5 linked regions of the Homo sapiens genome follow. The protein of the gene in region 2 purifies or fractionates together with the protein of the main gene of each other region. This does not show direct contact. Each region holds a gene or a part of one and is shown on either strand. Other genes may lie near its edges.

Region 1 (3,519 bases), on a different chromosome or scaffold from region 2:
AACAGCGGAGAAGGGCCAGGAGTGGTGGCTCTTGCCTGTAATCCCAGCACTTTGGGAGGCCAAGGCAGGAGGATCACTTGAGGTCAGGAGTTCAAGACCAGCCTGGCCAATGTGGCGAAACCCTGTCTCTACTGAAAATACAAAAAATAGCCAAGCATGGTGGCGCGTGCCTGTAGTCCCAGCTACTTGGGAGGCTGAGGCAGGAGAATCACGTGAACCTGGGAGACAGAGGTTGCAGTGAGCCAAGATCACTCCACTGCACTCCAGCCTGGGCAATAAAGTGAGACACCATCTCAAAAAAAAAAAAAAAAAAAAAAAAAACCAACAGCAGAGAAGAACTGAAAACAGGCCTACACAAAGAAAGATATCTCTAAAAGAGACAGGAATGTACAGAGAAAGAAGGAGTGACAGAAAATAGCAACCAGCTTGGTGGTTTACTCACACTGTTAATGTCAAAACAGAAATGAGCTAGCAGGCTGGATGGGCAGTGAGAAATTCCAGCACAATTAAACACAGAGCATCCCGAGAGAGAGGAAGTGGAACTAAAGCACTTTTGATGAGCAGGTGGTTGATAATACCCAGCAAAAGCTCCTTGTGCACCACATCCAACTTTCTCCTTGCAACTTTAGAGTCAGAAAATGATTCTACTTCTGATGGAAAAACAATGGGATTTGTTGTTATAAGAACAGGAACAGGTTTAGACTGGGACACAGTCCTGAGAGGAGGGAATGCTTCCATAAAAAAAGCAGAAAGGGAGACAGCTAGAACAGAGCCATCCTGCTGAAGACACTGTTCATCAGGACAGCAGCAGTCCTGGAGATGCTAGGAGGATGAGACACCAGGGTCCTAGGTGCTATGTCAGGTAAGAAAGGGTTTCCACTCACTTATCGCTATTGGCTATCTTGCGGAACTCTCGAACAGTCATGGCTTTCTTCTGTATGTTGTACTGAGTAAAGAGGCCAGACTGCCCCGTCACCAGCTGTTGAATGGGGGCAGGAATGACCAAATCATCAATGTCATCATAGGATGCTCGTGGCTTCCACTCTTTTGGAGGAACAACCTGAAGGGAACACAAGAAACAAAAAGACAGATGAGAAACCTGGCAAGCCAGTCAGAGTCCAGGAAGCATGTAGTTACCAGCCAACCTAACAGTCAATTTTACTAGACAGTTACTTTGATTTACCCACATTCACCAAAACACAGTAAGTCACAGGCATGCTAACCCTGATCCACTTTTGCCACCAACCAGCTGCCTAATTGCAGCAACCTAAGGTAAGTAATACTTGTTCCCAGCTTCAGTATCTTATTTGGACACCAAGAAAGGAGATTAAAGACTTGATTCTCTCTCAATCTCCTAGCCCAGGGCTCTCTTTAAAAAAATCACAAACACAACTTTACTTGATTTGGTCAACTCTATACTTGTACAGAATTTCCTTTTTTCACACACTAGATTACAGTTTAATTACAAAGAAGCATAACATTCTTAAAAATCTAATCTTGAGGCCGGGCACAGTGGCTCATGCCGGTAATCCCAGCACTTTGGGAGGCCGAGGCAGGTGGATCACCTGAGGTCAGAGTTTGAGATCAGCTTGGCCAACATGGTGAAACCCCATCTCTACTAAAAACACAAAAATTAGCCTGGTGTGGTGGCACTCAACTATAATCCCGGCTATTTGGGGGGCTGATGCAGGAGAATCGCTTGAACCCGGAGGCAGAGGTTGCAGTGAGCCAAGATTGCGCCATTGCACTCCAGCTGGGGTAACAAGAGCGAAACTCCATCTCAAAAAAAAACAAAAAAAATCTAATCTTGAATAGTTAAGTAAGATAGATCTGCTTTATGGAATACTATACAGCTTTTTTTTTTTTAATTAGAGAGTATTGTTTTACTTTATGTAACAAGGGAGAAAACAACACACACACACACACACACACACACACACACACACACTCACAAGCATCTGCATAAGGCAACACTGAAAGGACATATAAGAAAATACGGAAAGGGAGCAAGACTCTACATTAGCTACCTTCCAATAGCATTCTGTTTTTACTCACATAATCAAATTACCCATTCCAATAGTAATAAATTAACAAGACAGTCGACATGAGAAAAAAGAAGAATGAGTTGAATCCATAATTGACCTAGAGGGAGGAATATATGTTGTTAAAAAGGAAAAAAGAAAAAAAAAAAGAAAAAAGAATGAACGAACCAACACAGGAATGTATATGGCATGATGCCATTCTCTTTTAAAAACAAAACAAATAACACTATTTTATATGTGTGTATGTTTGTATGAGCAGAGAAAAAGGTGTGGAGGGAGCTAATACCACTTAAGGAGACGGCACTGGAGAAGGTGGATGAAGATCAGCCTTTTCTTTATCTGCGTTTGAAATATTTAACTTGTAATAACCGACATTTTTTTGGTAACTTTAAATCTAATAAAGTACAACCAAAAAAAGCAATGTGCTATGAAAAACTGCACTGCAGGCCCTGCTATTCCCGCCTGCTGTTATTAACCCAGCAGTAGCCGTATCTGCAGATAAGAAAGAGGATGTGGTCGTCTCAAGTCTCTGGAGGCACCAGGGTCCAAGACTGGTCCTCAGCTTTGTAGCCAATGTTCTTGCTTTCTCTTTTCATATTGAAAATGTAACAAGCACATATGGTAGGGAATTCAAACAACATAAAATGGTGTAAAAAATTTCCTCCTGGCTTAGACTGAGGTCCCTGCCTCTCAGTTTCCTGAGGATCTCTCCAGAAATGCAGTTCTTTCAGCTTCCAGCACTCAACCTGATTGTGACAGAATATATGAAAAGCTGATTTGACTCAGGAAAAATAACGAATCCAACTCACAGGAGAAAGAAGTACAAACCAGAAACCAATTTCAAATTACAAGGACCAGAATACTCATGTTGGCTGGCCAGTGCATTCTCTCCCCTTGAAGAAAGTCCACATGGGAAGCCAAATTGCTACTAGAGTGCTGGATGAGACTGAAATGAGAGCAAGAGAAGTCAGATGGCATAAGCACTCACTGGCAGTTCAATAACACCACAGCACCCAGCTCCACCAAGAGGGCTGAGGCACAACAGCAGCCAGGCCTGGAGACACTAGCTCTTTACCTCCCCCTTTCTGAAGATTCCAAGTAGCTCTCTTCCTACCTAAAAGCAGAGATGCTTCTGATGTTAACAACGGGAATTAACTTGCAAATAGAACCGCATTCACTAAAGTCATCACCCCACCCAACTTTCAGTAAAACACAGTTCCGGCCCAAATGTAGGAAAAAAATCTTACTGCTCTGCCCTAGGTAACAAAACCATTTGAACAATCCCAGCTCCTTACCTTGGCTAGCCCTGCCCGATGAGCTCCTTGGGATTCAATGTAGGCAATGTATCTACTGAAGTTTCGGAACTCTTCCATAGTTGGATAAAAGGTCATTATCCTAGCACTGGGATTCAGAGTTTCAGACTCAGAAGCCATTTTCCCTCCTTTTTGAGGTCCCTTTAGTCAGACAGGAATCTGAA
Region 2 (3,519 bases):
GATGTTTGTGCCTGATTCCTCAAATTTAACATGTCCAGACCATGATCTTATTTTTACCTTCCTGCTCCTAAACTAAACGATATAAAAAGCTTAGTTCTGGCCGGGCGCCGTGGTTCACGCCTGTAATCCTAGCACTTTGGGGTAACACCGTGAAACCCCGTCTGTATTAAAAATACAAAAAAATTAGCCGGGCAAGGTGGCGGCGCCTGTAGTCCCAGCTACTCGGGAGGCTGAGGCAGGAGAATGGCGTGAACCCAGGAGGCGGAGCTTGCAGTGAGCCGAGATCGTGCCACTGCACTCCAGCCTGGGCGACAGAGCAAGACTCCGTCTCAAAAAAAAAAAAAAAAAAAAAGCTCAGTTCTTCCTCTTGAAACATTATATTGGCTTAATCATTGCCTTGACTAATTGTTAGATTATTAGTTTAATCTCATGGTTCTGTAATTCCCACTCCTGATTGTGAGTTACTAAAAAAAATCATATGGAGAGGTGATTTTATTAAAACTGATTATTCAGTTGAGACCTAGGATTTTTAGTTTTATTCTCTTTATTATCTAGTGAATGAACTTATTTTAGAACTGATGCAAAGAAATGTCACTGACTTGTTAAGTAGAGTACACCTGTGGCTTCTTCAAGTGTGTTTGATAATGAGGTCATATAAGTGACTCTAAAATGGTTTGTTTACTGTGTGAAGGAAGGTAGGAAACAATGGGGAGATACGTGTTACCAGCACATGGCTTGTCTAAAACACTTATACTACCAATCTGAGTCTTTAAAAGTTACAGGTTGGGGGGGGAGGGGCAGTTAAAACAGTATTAATTAATGTGTTAACATATATTAGAGGGCCTGGATTGTCATTGATCTAATAGTGATAATTTGAATCACTTAAGTATCATTTATCCAAAATAAAATGGCATGTTAGTCACTTAAATTGTAGCTGTATGAGACCATATTCTTTTTTTTTTGTTTGTTTTCCAGAGACAGGTTCTTGCTCTGTCACCCAGGCTGGAGTGCAGTGGCACAATCATGGCTCACTGCAGCCTCAACCTCCTGGGCTCAAGCAATCCTGCCACCTCAGCAACTTGCCCCCCAGCCCCTGTATTCCACCCCCCCAAGGTTGCTGGGACTATAGGCATGTGCCAGGCGGCTGGGACTACAGGCATGTGCCAGGCAGCTGGTCTTGACCTCCTGACTGAGCTCAAGCAATCCTCCCACCTCAGCCTCCCAAAGTACGCTTTTTTCTTTTCTTTTTCTCTTTCCCAAGAATAGGATTTAAAAAGTCAATTCCCAAGAAAGGTCTTTATTTACCCAAGTGTTATAATTTCCAATTTGGATGTTTTTAGTCATTGGTTGAGGAAGTATCTCAGATAAATATAAATGTAAATATAAATAAATGTATATATTCATACCTGTAATTCATTTGGATATTTATAATAAAAATCAAAGCCTCATGGTTTCTTTAAATGAGATAGAGAGCTGTGCTTAGGTTTATCAAGAGCAATAAGTTTATGTGATTTTTCTCTCTCAACTACTAGAATAGGAATGGAGGCCATTTTAAACAAAATTTTAATATAATGAAATCCTCTTTACTTATAACCTAATTAGAAATATTAAGTGGCCAAGAGTGTATGGAAACTGGCCAGATTTCTGCATATTTTCTTCAGAATACTTCGAAACCTCTTTCACTGTTTCATAATGTTTATAGATTGTGCAATTCAGGTTTAGTAATACTGTAGATAGACAGATGTGTTAAAGAACAAAACAGAGATTACCAGGAAACTTAAGTGTTGATAGTATGGAGTATAAGTATGACATAATATTTTTTTAGAAGGATTACGTAAAAAGTTAATGGAAAAAGTGGTGTCTATCTCTCACTCAGGATACTTAAAGTCAGATTCTTAGGTAAAATATACTCTATTAATATGTTAAGCACATCTTACTTGGCTTTCCTTAGAATTGTCACCTCTGATGTGATCTTTTATAACTTTTCTTACTCAAAAGTCTGCTCACTAAAAAGATTCTTAGTTTGCACTACAATGGTTGTAAAACAAGAATCCTTTCTTTTTTTGTTTTTGTTTCTGTGATTAGATGCTTTAGGGCTTATATCCTTTGCCTTGCTAATAAGGTAAGTGCCCAACTGATGGGGCTGTGTAGAAAACTTTTTGGCTTGCATTGGTAAGCTTTCCCCATGTCATAGATGCTTACTATTAGAAAGCTATAGTTCCTGTGGTGAATGACTTCTCTTTGTATTACAGTTGACACTTTGGTCACTGTTGAATTTAGGCCTCAGTGATGGATGATAGTGTTTATTGCTTGTCTCCTTAAATAAAATAGAGAAGTTAGGTTTTGCTTTTCTATTTATTTTCCAAAGCTATGAGGAAGAGGCATTGAATCTAGTTTACTGTTTTATAGGTGGGCTGTGTGAATTTAATTTTTGCCTTGAATTTTGTGACCTCAGAAGAATGGCAGAATATCTGACAAGCTTCAGTCCTGTGTCCTTAGTTCCAGTCTTCTATATACTAAACCTAGGAATGCTGAGCAACACTGAATGGCATAGGATACCACTGGGGAGGGGGCAAAGGGTCTCTTTGAAGGTGAGATTAATTTATCCCGAAGACAGGAGGTAGAGTTGGATGGGTAAGTTTTAAAGGGTTGAAGCAATAGAGGTTGCAAGGTAAGGTATGAGACCTTTGAACAAACAGGAATCAACTAAAGGGTGGAAAAGATAAGGCCCTTGCTTTTTACTCATTGGAAATGTTCCTTGAAGCCTATTATGTATATAACACTTAATCCTGTAGAGTGTCTCAAAGAAGCAGAGGATAGTTTCTGTAAAACATTTAATCATCTGGTTAAAGTGAAACTGGACAGAAGCATTATCAGGGCTTAGGGGAAGAGTGCTATCTTTACAATTCCATTAAGAGTAAAAATATCTTGCTATGTTTTGTTAAATATATATTTTTCTGTTAGAAAAAAACCCACTTTAAAAAATCACCTGTTTTGATGAAAATGCTTCTGTGAAAACCTGAAGAGAGTTGGTGCCTCTTCTTATGGTTGAAGATCCCTACTTTTTAATGTAAGCTTACAAACATGAAAACATGTTTTGCCCCTTCTCTGAGTTGAGCTGGTCACTAGAAGGCAAATCCATGGACAGACAGTCCCATTGTTTGAAAGCTGGTTTTGTGGTAAGTGGTAAGTTGGTGGAGGTAGGCATGATTCTTCCATTACAGGCTGGTATGTAACTTTTTAAACACTGGTGCTTTGTACATAGTAGGTATTCAGTGTCTGAATTATTTTTTGAGTGTCGTTTTTTAAAAAAGTATCCTTTTTTAATGCAAAGAATGCATTTGTGTTTTCTTTGCCCCAGTTTGTCTGTGATATCAACTGGAGCAATAGTAGCTTATACTTCATTTCACTGTAATTTTTTTTAATTGACCTCTGATTCTCTCTGGCAAATAATTGTGATATGGTTCGAGGGATGTTTGTTTAAGACAATGGATGAGATTGAGTTGTAAGTAATTTCTT
Region 3 (3,519 bases), on a different chromosome or scaffold from region 2:
TTTAGAAACTTGGTGGAGGAGCTCTTTAGAGCCCAGACTGAGACCCCTGTGGAGGAAACACTGCTCAGGTGTTTCCTCCACAGGCCATGTGAACCCGTGCACATGGCCTCTGGCTCTTTAAATCATGTAACAAAGGGGCTTTGGGGAGTGTCATAAATGTTCTATTTTTATCTGCATATGGGTGTGTTTGAAAATCCACTGAGCTGTACATTTATGACTTTTGCACTTTTCCCTGTTTTTACATGGGGACTCATAAAGATATTGCAAAACTCAGCTGCCACCACTGCTGTCACCTTTCCAGGATGCCCAGAACTGATAAATCCTAGACTTACAAACTTTCATCTCCCACAAATTACAGGAAAGGAACAATGACAAACTTTATTCCAGGATTTAATTCATAGAAACGACAGAAATCATTGGAGAAAATAACCATGTCAAGTGACACCTTATTGAGAAATTGCTAATTATTGAAACCAGGAACAGTAAATGGTCATGCAAAGATAAGGCACAGAATAGTAAGAAATTTTGGAATGAACCAGATCTGGAGTCAAGAACTAGCTCCATAATTTACTAAACCATGTGACTTAAGGGAGGTTATTTTATCCCTTAAAACTATTCCTCATCTATAAAATGAGTTAAATAATACCTACCTTACAGGAATGTGTGAGGAATAGAATTAACATACTGAAATGTTCTCCCAGTATCTAAAATCAATGATGGCTACTATTATTGTGTAGAAAAGGTAGTGCAACCTTATGTGACACTATCAAAAATAAAGAAAAAGCACCAATAAGTCTCTTTAGGGCTATAACAGCATCTTTCATGGCGGTATCCTAAACATCTAATATAATGCCCAATACAGAGTTTCAATGAATATTTGCTAAAATTAATTATGTATGACTTCAGAGAGGTTAGCAGAATAGTCATGGCAGAATTTAGAGTAAAACAATACATTTTGTGTGTAATAGAAATTACTGTAGTCAGGAAGTCTTACACAAAATGGTGGTTTGATGTGAATGTAGGATTGAAGAAATGTGTTTATTTTAATGAAGACTTAAGAGACATTTAAAATGTAAGATAAGATAGATTAAAAGTAATGATGTAAACTTCCTGTTAAAATGGCTTCTCACTAGCAACCACCAAAACAGCATATTCCAACTTCCTAATAAAATGCCCAGGAGACAGAGAAAAGAAAAACAAACAAACAAAAAAAACTTATACTATCAGCCCAAACTGAAAACTATAGCCAATCACACGCAAGGGTTCAGGAGGATTCACATGTTTGTTCACGAGACAAATGGAGGTAAACAAAGAAAAAATTAATCCCACTTGTTGTATTACCTGATGTCTTTTATGTCTTTGCTTATGAAGCAAAAGTTACATAGAAGGCTGGAGGAGTATTATCTTTCCTGGGATTTTAAAGCCGAAAACCTGAACCAAACAAAAATGGGATGCAGTCCTTCACACCTTAGGCAGAAAAGAGTTAATCCCCTTTATCATTTTGCTTCTGGTGGCATTGTTTAAGATCTAGGCAGACAGTACAAAAGATCCGATATAAATGGTGGGAAAGTACGGAGTGAGGTATTGTTAGTGGCAGAGTGCATACCAAAATAAAGTCTCAAGGAGTAACACGTCTGAGAGGGTAAATATATGAAGAACTCTGGCAGTAGGATATATGAGAATTACAGTTTACTGTAGGTGTGAGTTCTAGAGAATCAATCACTGGGGGGATAGGAAAAAGTTGCCAATTAAGTAATGCATACATATTCTAAGTAAAAATCTAAAAGAAGTGGTGTTGGAGTAGGAGGAGTACACACATATTAGCTTCAGTTCTGACTATGAAAAAGGAATGCTGACCACATAAATAGAGAGTAATACAAGCTACTCACTCCATCTACTGAGCCTGAACAAATGTATCTTATTCAAAATGAGTTAGAAGAAAAAAAGACATATATGGAGTGTAAAAAAATTACCATAGGACATAAAGTGATTAAGATCCAGAAGATTCAAGTGAAATAGATAACATTTAAGAATTAACTACCAAAGAATCCAGAGAAATTTTCTACAATATAATGTAAACATTTACTCCAATAGACTTGGAAGTCTAAAAGAAATAGATGATTCCTGAGAGAGACATAAATTACCAAAATGACTTAGGTCTGGATTGGAAAAAAAATAAGATTTACCCATTAAAATATACCAAGAAACATAAAACTACATAGTTGAAGTCTACCAAATATCAAAGAACAAGCAATGCCTATTAAATAAACCATTCCAAGCTTAAAAAATGGAAAGCTTCCCAATCTATTTTACAAAAACAGCATAACCTTGGGCCCAAACTGAGGGTCACACAATAAAATAACCTAATAGGCTCATTTCTATTATAAACATAAATGCAAAAATTTTACATGAAGTACTGCCAAATCAAAATCCCTAATGAATTAAAATAATGTATCAAGTAGTTTAGTCCAAGAATATAAGGATGATTCATCATTTTTTAAAAAACGTAATAATGTAATTCACTACATTACATTTTTAAATGGGAAACACAATATGATCTCAATAGATTTTGAAAAAAAAATAGCACTTGATAAAATATGTCACCTTCTCCACCAGGATGGTGTAAAGATATAGGGATATCCTAGAAAGTTGGGAATAAAGTAAAACTTCCTTAAAGTGTCCCTCATAAAAACCTATAGCAAACATCACTCTTGAGAAAACTTTAAAAGCATTCTCATTAAATTCAGGAATATCAGGAGTAAGACAAAGTCACTCACTATCATTAGTATTCAACAAAACACTCTTTAATATATAAGAGGCTAGAAAAAGAAATGGAACCCGGGTTCTTGGCTACAAGCAGCAAAAACCAACAAACTTAAGCCATAAAGAATTCATTGGAAGGACTTCAGTAGCTCACAGAAAAAAAAAAAATGGGACGCTAAAGAAAACAAACAAGAACTAAGGACATTCCAGAGGTCTATGCACGTGGGATGATCTTAGTAAAGGTCTAGAGCAGAACCAGTTCAATGAGCATAGAGCATACTCTGCTGAGATCATTGAGTTCCAACTGTTCTATCCAGCCATGACCAGACTTGCAAAGGAACATCTATACAACAAAAAATACTGCAGATAGATTACGAACCTATACTTTTATAGAACTATAGAATTTTTTAAAAAAAGATCAAGGACGAGTATTTTTATAACCTTAGGCCTGAGAAACCCCTTCTTAAAATGCACAAATCCCAATAGTGACATAGGAGAAAAAAATTAATAGATTTTTTCATGGAAAAGTAAAAATATTATGAGATTTTTTAAACTTCTGCAATAAAAGACAATATAAACAAAGTTAAAGATAGCAAGAGTTATGGGAAAAAAGGACTACAGACATAAATAGAATGAATATCCATGATCCACAAAGACAGTAAATAGAAGACAATAACCTACAGCCCAATAAGAAAATGGACAAAAAAAAATTAAGCAATTTACATGAAATACAAATGACCAATAAGAGGCACAAAC
Region 4 (3,519 bases), on a different chromosome or scaffold from region 2:
TGCAACGATTTTCTATTTCAGAACCAAGCACAGGATGCACTAACCTCACACCCGCTCTATTTATGGCCACTGCGAGGGAAACATACCTGTGAACTCAGACTTAAAGCCTGGGGGAGGAGGTCCTGCTGAGTTGGTGAATCTCTGGTAACGGTGGGAAAATGGAGGATACTCAGAGTACGGTGGAGGAGAATACTGCCCGTCACTCAGGAACAGCTTATAGACTACAAACGCGATCCCAAGGAGTACCACAATGGTAATCAATCCACTCATGTTACAGGAATCCGCCGAGGACCACTTATAATAATAATCAGAGAAAGAGGCAAAGCCGTGCTGCTTTCCAGACTCCTTCAGTTTCTGCAGGCCAAGTTCTGTATAATCTAAATTATACTCCAAGCCACAAGAACCTCTTAGTACATACTGGTCTTCAGAGGACTCATAGCCTTCACAGCTCACCACAGTTTTTCCAAATTTGTATGCAATATCTAAGTCCGTCTTACATTCCCACTGTGAAGAAAAATAGAAACAGACTATTAGAAACAAACATTTTTTTCATTTAATATATGTTACTTGGGGGCCGGGCGCAGTGGCTCACACCTGTAATCTCAGCACTTTCGGAGGCCAAGGCGGGTGGATCACGCGGTCAGGAGTTCAAGACCCGCCTGGCCAAGATGGTGAAACCCCATCTTTATTAAAAATACAAAAATTAGCCAGGCGCAGTGGCAGGCGCCTATAATCCCAGCTACTAAGGAGGCTGAGGCAGGAGAATCACTTGAACCTGGGAGGTGGAGGTTGCAGTGAGCTGAGATCGTGATTGCACTCTAGCCTGAGCAACAGAGCAAGACTCCGTCTCAAGAAAAAAAAAAATGTTACTTGGGCTATATATCCGTCATAAAATTGCAAAATGAAGCAAGGGAATGATCCGCAAAATTCACAATGGTAAGTATTCATGTCTAAGGGAAGGAAAATGAGGGGCTTCAAAGATAATGGTGGTATCTGTGTTCTACTTCTTATGCTGGATATTGCGTATATGAGTATTCGTTTTATTACTATTCTTTACATATACATGTTATATATCCATCTGAACATATTAAGTATTCTACAATTTATAAAATTTAAGCAAACTGCCAAAATGTCAACTTTTTGCCACTGTTGTTCAAGATGCTTTCTTTAAAAATCCAGATTTCTTAAAAGATGTTAAGGCTCAAAACAGCATCATATATGAATGTCTGGTAGCTACACAAAGCAACAGAGATATTACATAACCTTCAGAGAAAAAAACTTTTCTACACAAATTTTATAAAACCATGGACTAACTTTCCAAGGTCCAATTCTATGTAATTCTCTTGTATTTTTTAAAGATATTTAGAAAAATGCAAAAAGAACCCAGGCTAGCCCCAAAAATGTCCACCTTATAAAAAAATATATGCCCAAGTTTGGTCTAGATTCTATATTTTGTGGTGGAAAAAGCAATATGCTTCTTTAACTCTTAAGATACAAGCTAAAGGCCAGGCGCGGTGGTTCATGCTTGTAATCCCAGCACTTTGGGAGGCCAAGGTGGGCGGATCACCTGAGGTCAGGAGTTCAAGAACAGCCTGGCCAAAATGGCAAAACCCCATCTCTACGAAAAATACAAAAATGAGGTGGGCATGGTGGCAGGCGCCTGTAATCCCAGCTACTTCAAAAATAGAGGCTGAGGCAGGAGAACGACTTGAACCCAGAGGCAGAGGTTGCAGTGAGCCAAGATCATGTCACTGCACTGTACTCCAGACTGGGTGACAGAGGGAGACTCCGTCTCAAAAAAAATGAAAAAAGACACAAGCTAAAGTAGATTTAATTGGTTCTGTTGCCCTTCTGCAAATTTTTGTACAAATTATTTTCCTCTTTCAAAGTTCACACTATTTTACTTCATTTATAATAGCCTTATTGAAATATAATTCACACATACCATACAATTCACCCATTTCAATGGTTTTAGTATATTCACAGTTGTGCTACTGTCACCACAATCAATTTTAGAATATTTTCGTCACCCCAAAGAAATATTGTGCCCATTAGCAGTCACTCTCCATTCTCCCGCCGCACACCTCCCAACCAACTTTCTGTCTATATGGATTTCCCTAAATGGACAGTTCACAGGAATGTAATAATACAATATGTGGTCTTTTGTGACTGGCTTCTTTCACTTAGCATAACATTTTCAAGATTCATCCACGTTGTAGCATGTATTACTATTTCACTTTTTTATGGCTAAATAATATTTCTTTGCATGGATATACCACTTTTATTTATCGTTCATTAGTAATGGACATTTGAATTGTTTCTACTTTTTGGCTATTATGAATAATGCTGCTATGTATATTTGTATGCAAGTTTTTGTGTGGACATGTGTTTTCAATTCTCTTGGGTGTATATACCTTGGAGTGGAATGACTGAGGCATACATGGTAACTCTACATTTAAACTTTTGAGGAACTGCCAATTTTCCAAAGCAGCTGGACCATTTCACATTCCCAACAGCAGTGTATGAGGGTTCCAATTTCTCGACATCCTCACCAGCCTTGTTATCTTTTTTATTATAGCCTTCCTACTGAGTGTGAAGTGGTATCTTACTGTGGCTTTGATTTGCATTTCTCTGATGGCTAATAATAAGGAACACTTTTCATGTGCTTATTTATTACTTATATATCTTCCTTGTAGAAATGTCTATTCAGATGCTCTGCCATTTTTACCTTGGTTGTTTTCTTACTGAGTTGTAAGAGTTATTTTATATTCTAAATACAAGTCCCTCACCAATTATGATTTGCTAAGCTTCCTCCCATTCTGTAGGTTGTCTTTTCACTTTCTTGATGATGTCCTTTGATAGTCAAAAGTTTTTCATTTGGATAAGATGCAGTTTTTCTTTTGTTGCTGTTACTACACTGTTTTTAAAATAATTTTATTTGGAGGAAGATTCATAGGTTTGTTGACTTAGGTAAATAAAACAAGCTAAACTTGTATTGGTATTTCATGTTAACTACCACTTCCTTAATCATGCGTACTTACAAGTAGCTTCTAAGTACTGTATTTAAATTTCAACTCTTGGAATAGAAGGAGTTTCTGTCCTGCTACTAAATGGCCTCTCTCCTGCTACTAAACATAAGCCAATGTATGATATGCTCAACACTCCTTTGCTCATGCTATTCCCTTCTCTAGCCTTTCCTCTCTAAAAATGTTATCATTCCTTCCTAACACAGCACAAATGTCTCATCCTTTAAGTCCCAATGGCTCCAACCAGACGTGACTTTATAATGTTGTGTTGGGACCTACATGTAATCTGAGTGCCTGTCTTACCTCTTCTACTAGTAAGACAGTTTCTTCATTCTACCTTATTCATTTTTGTATATTGCAATTAATACATGCTTAATGAATGACATCACCATTACTGCCTTTTTTTCCCATCAAGACTCTAAAAGTCATAAGTAAAGTGGAGTGAGACTTCTGCTATAACCCAGAGAATTCTATGATTCAACTTAGCAGTACT
Region 5 (3,519 bases), on a different chromosome or scaffold from region 2:
CAGTAACAAAGCACAGTTTAACCTAGTAAGTGGTGTCAACTCCTTCTGTGCCTCTATAATCCATTTATCTAAATCCTACTTAGTTGGAGGATTATAGTTCTCATATAGCTAGATATGAGTTCTTCCCATTAGGTAAATGGTTCACACATACAGTAAACAAGGCTATAAAAAATCATATCTAATTTCACAAAAGAAAAAAATTATTTGACATATTTTCCTGGTAAGAAAAAGATATAAAGGAAGGAAATCGGGATCATGCCAAACAAGTAATTAAAAACTGTCTAAAGACAGATCTTTTTTTGGAGTCCCTTAAAAGAGAGGAACTGGCTAAAAATTTCGAATGAAACCGCCAATAGAAAAAAGAACCACAAGAAACAAATCTAAAATTTCACTGGAAACAGGAGGCTGCAAAGTAAAAGGGAAAAATTTAAGGAAACACAAGCCACATCTTCAGACATCAACATGAAAAAGGAATGCTAAAATGGTAATTTTTTTAAAGTGGAAGTGTCAGAGGCTTTTAAACCAGAGCAACTCCGTCTTGAATAGGGGCTGAGTAAAATAAGGCTTTGACCTATGGGGGCTGCATTCCCAGGAGGTTAGGCATTCTTAGTCACATGATGAGATAGGAGGTTGGCACAAGGTACAGATCACAAAGACCTTGCTGATAAAAGGATGCAGGAAAGCAACTGGCCAAAACCCACCAAAATCAAGATGGTGATGAAAATGACCTTTGGTTTTCCTCACTGCTCATTATATGCTAATTATAACGCATTAGCATGCTAAAAGACACTCCTACCAGTGCCATGATAGTTTACAAATGCCATGGCAACATCAGGAAGTTACCCTATATGGCTTAAAAAGGGGGAGAAACCCTCAGTTCTGAGAATTGCCAACCCCAGTTCAGGAAAACTCATGAATAATCCACTGCCTGTTTAGCATATAATCAAGAAGTAACAATAAGTGTAAGCAGCTGAGCAGCCTATGCTCTGCTTTGCCTATGGAGTAGTGATTCTTTTGTTTCTTTACTTTCTTAATAAACTTGCTTTCACTTCCCTCTACGGATTGGCCTCAAATTCTTTCTTGCATGAGATCCAAGAACCCTCTCCTGGGGTCTGGATCAAGACCCCCTTCCAGTAACAGAAATGACAGAAAGGGCTAAATGGATCACAAAGTAGTTAAAATGCAAATTACAAACAATGTTACTACCATTAGGTCTCATCAAATAAGAATAAAAATGAACTCAGGAATTCAAGATTGCAGTAAGCTATGATGGCACCACTGCACTCCAGCTTGGGTGACAGAGTGAGGCCCCCGCATCTCTAAAAAGAAAAAAAAAAAAAGGAATGTAACTAATATCTAAATAACTCTAACTAAAATGTTTTCATTGAATATATTAGTGTTTGAAGTAAATATTAACACGCTTTGGGTTTTGGGGAAACTCTTGCTAATCTTTGACCTAACCATTGTTATATGCCAGTCAGGACTAGAAATGGAGGAAACACTGACATTAGTATTCATTGATTCTTAAAGAAATTAGAAATGAGAAGCCTAATTGAATCAAAGTCACAAGGATCTGAAACCTCCCTCCCCTGGTCTGGTGAAAAAGAGGATATTTTGTGGAAGGTAGTATCTCGATCTAAATTCACAATATCATACAAAACTATATTTCTATGATCTGTGATAATCGTAACTGAACTTGGACTCTAAATTTTCTGACCTACTTCACTACTGACCCTTAGCAGAAGAAAGATGCTTGTTTATAGCTGTTTACAGTTTACACTTCACTGATGCCATTACTACATCTGAACATACTGTAAATTAGTGATGGAATGCAAACTAGCTACTAAATTAATTAATTTGTTAATCTCATTAGCCAAAAGGTAAGAACAACTTCCAGCATTATGTAAGTATTTCAGACTTATCTGAAATATGACAATCTTACCTGTATGTTTTTAGAATGGGGGAAAAAACTCTAAAAACTATAAATAATGTCAAATAAAACATAAATTTCCAAACAACACTGATAACAATTCCATAGGAAAGCTTACATTCAGTGATACTTTTGCCTTTTTCTTCTTAAAGTGTCCTTTCTGGAAATGAACATTATCTATTTTGATACAACCTTTACTTTATAATATTCAACTCCTAGCCTGTTTTCCCCAGAATAAAACAAAACTCAGAAAGCTTACAATCTTTAAATTTCATTATTTGGTGGCTTTATTTGTTCAAATAACAATCTTAAAATTATGTGAACTACAACTGAGAGATTTATTAATTAACAATGAAGTTATAAAATGTATCCTATTATTTCTAAATTAATGTAGTGACAATAGTGGTTGAGAACATGGACTCTAACCATATTCTCTAGGTTAAAATCCCAAATTTGAGCTGGGTACAGCGGTGTGCACCTGTAATCCCAGCTACCTGGGAGACTGAGACAGGAAGATCACTTGAGCCCAGGAGTTTGAGGCTGCAGGGTGTGATGACTACACCTGTGAACAGTCACAGCTCTCCAGCCTAGGCACCGAGACAAGACCCTGTTTCTAAAAACAAAGGAAAAACAAATTCCTAGATCTGCCATTTTCCAACTCTGTGACCTTGAACAAGTCACTTAACCTCTCTGTTCTCAGTTTTCCTAAAAGTCAAATTAATGGTGCTAATAATAGTACTTACAGAGTTGTTGTGAGCTAAACAAGTTAACATAGCTAACGTACTTAGACAAAGTGCTTAGAACGGTGCCCAGTATATAGTAAATTCTATGTACACGTTTGCTGTTATTCCTTAAATCTGTAAAGGGAGCTCAGAAAGGTGCTGTTCGTATTTAATTTTATCTAATTTTATTTTAAAATATTTAAGAAAAATAATCTATTTTCTGCCATTGAAACTCTCACAACCCTATGTTCTTAACTTTTCCAGAAATTCTACAACAGTAGGCTGGATAATAAATATTCCCTAAGGTGAAAGGCCACACAGATTAAAGTTATTTTACTCTCTTTTCTAATTCAATACAACACAATTGTTTTAGCTCTGAGGGTATTCTGGTATTTGGAGCATTTGTCAAATAATGAAATGAATCATAAATTAGTCAGATTATAATTGTTATAATTCTCAGTTATTATTAGTTTGTCTTCAGTTTACTCTGTACTCAAAAGAGGGGGAAGGGATGGCCAAAAATTCTTTTGCAATAGTAGTTGATATAATTGAACACCAACATTACCTTTATCACTTCCATAATAATAGAATACCGTTTTACTGAGAGCACACCACCGTTTCTGCCATTCAAATCCCAGAAAGCTGTGATCTGCAATAAAGAGGGGAAAATGTAAGGCCATTTCCTTACTGTAAAAGAAAAAGTTAATTAATATGATTTCTAAGATTCCTCTGAGCTCTAACATTGTGTGACTAATTTGTATCTTCTTTTCCAAGAGACAAAAAACCAAACAACAACAAACCAACACAGCTAAAGGGAATAAAGTAAAGTAGCTATGGGGCTGCCATACTTATGGGATCAACAGCATG

What was found.
Region 1: the proteins of ABHD5 (region 2) and KDM4A purify together in Homo sapiens (affinity purification with mass spectrometry; one large-scale study listed by BioGRID and IntAct). This does not show direct contact.
Region 3: the proteins of ABHD5 (region 2) and TMEM38B purify together in Homo sapiens (affinity purification with mass spectrometry; 2 studies listed by BioGRID and IntAct, with this or other methods). This does not show direct contact.
Region 4: the proteins of ABHD5 (region 2) and SARAF purify together in Homo sapiens (affinity purification with mass spectrometry; 2 studies listed by BioGRID and IntAct, with this or other methods). This does not show direct contact.
Region 5: the proteins of ABHD5 (region 2) and SKAP2 purify together in Homo sapiens (affinity purification with mass spectrometry; 2 studies listed by BioGRID and IntAct, with this or other methods). This does not show direct contact.

What each region holds. Positions count from the first base shown.
Region 1 is NC_000001.11:43,653,132-43,656,650, reverse strand, and holds part of KDM4A (lysine-specific demethylase 4A), read right to left. Parts: intron 3,515-3,519; 5' UTR 3,476-3,514; coding exon 3,338-3,475; intron 1,061-3,337; coding exon 885-1,060; intron 1-884. UniProt on the Homo sapiens protein: Histone demethylase that specifically demethylates 'Lys-9' and 'Lys-36' residues of histone H3, thereby playing a central role in histone code. Does not demethylate histone H3 'Lys-4', H3 'Lys-27' nor H4 'Lys-20'.
Region 2 is NC_000003.12:43,693,928-43,697,446, forward strand, and holds part of ABHD5 (1-acylglycerol-3-phosphate O-acyltransferase ABHD5), read left to right. Parts: intron 1-3,519. UniProt on the Homo sapiens protein: Coenzyme A-dependent lysophosphatidic acid acyltransferase that catalyzes the transfer of an acyl group on a lysophosphatidic acid.
Region 3 is NC_000009.12:105,697,529-105,701,047, reverse strand, and holds part of TMEM38B (trimeric intracellular cation channel type B), read right to left. Parts: intron 91-3,519; exon of another isoform or gene 1-90. UniProt on the Homo sapiens protein: Intracellular monovalent cation channel required for maintenance of rapid intracellular calcium release. Acts as a potassium counter-ion channel that functions in synchronization with calcium release from intracellular stores.
Region 4 is NC_000008.11:30,069,556-30,073,074, forward strand, and holds part of SARAF (store-operated calcium entry-associated regulatory factor isoform 1 precursor), read right to left. Parts: intron 505-3,519; coding exon 87-504; intron 1-86. UniProt on the Homo sapiens protein: Negative regulator of store-operated Ca(2+) entry (SOCE) involved in protecting cells from Ca(2+) overfilling.
Region 5 is NC_000007.14:26,735,578-26,739,096, forward strand, and holds part of SKAP2 (src kinase-associated phosphoprotein 2), read right to left. Parts: intron 3,302-3,519; coding exon 3,218-3,301; intron 1-3,217. UniProt on the Homo sapiens protein: May be involved in B-cell and macrophage adhesion processes. In B-cells, may act by coupling the B-cell receptor (BCR) to integrin activation. May play a role in src signaling pathway.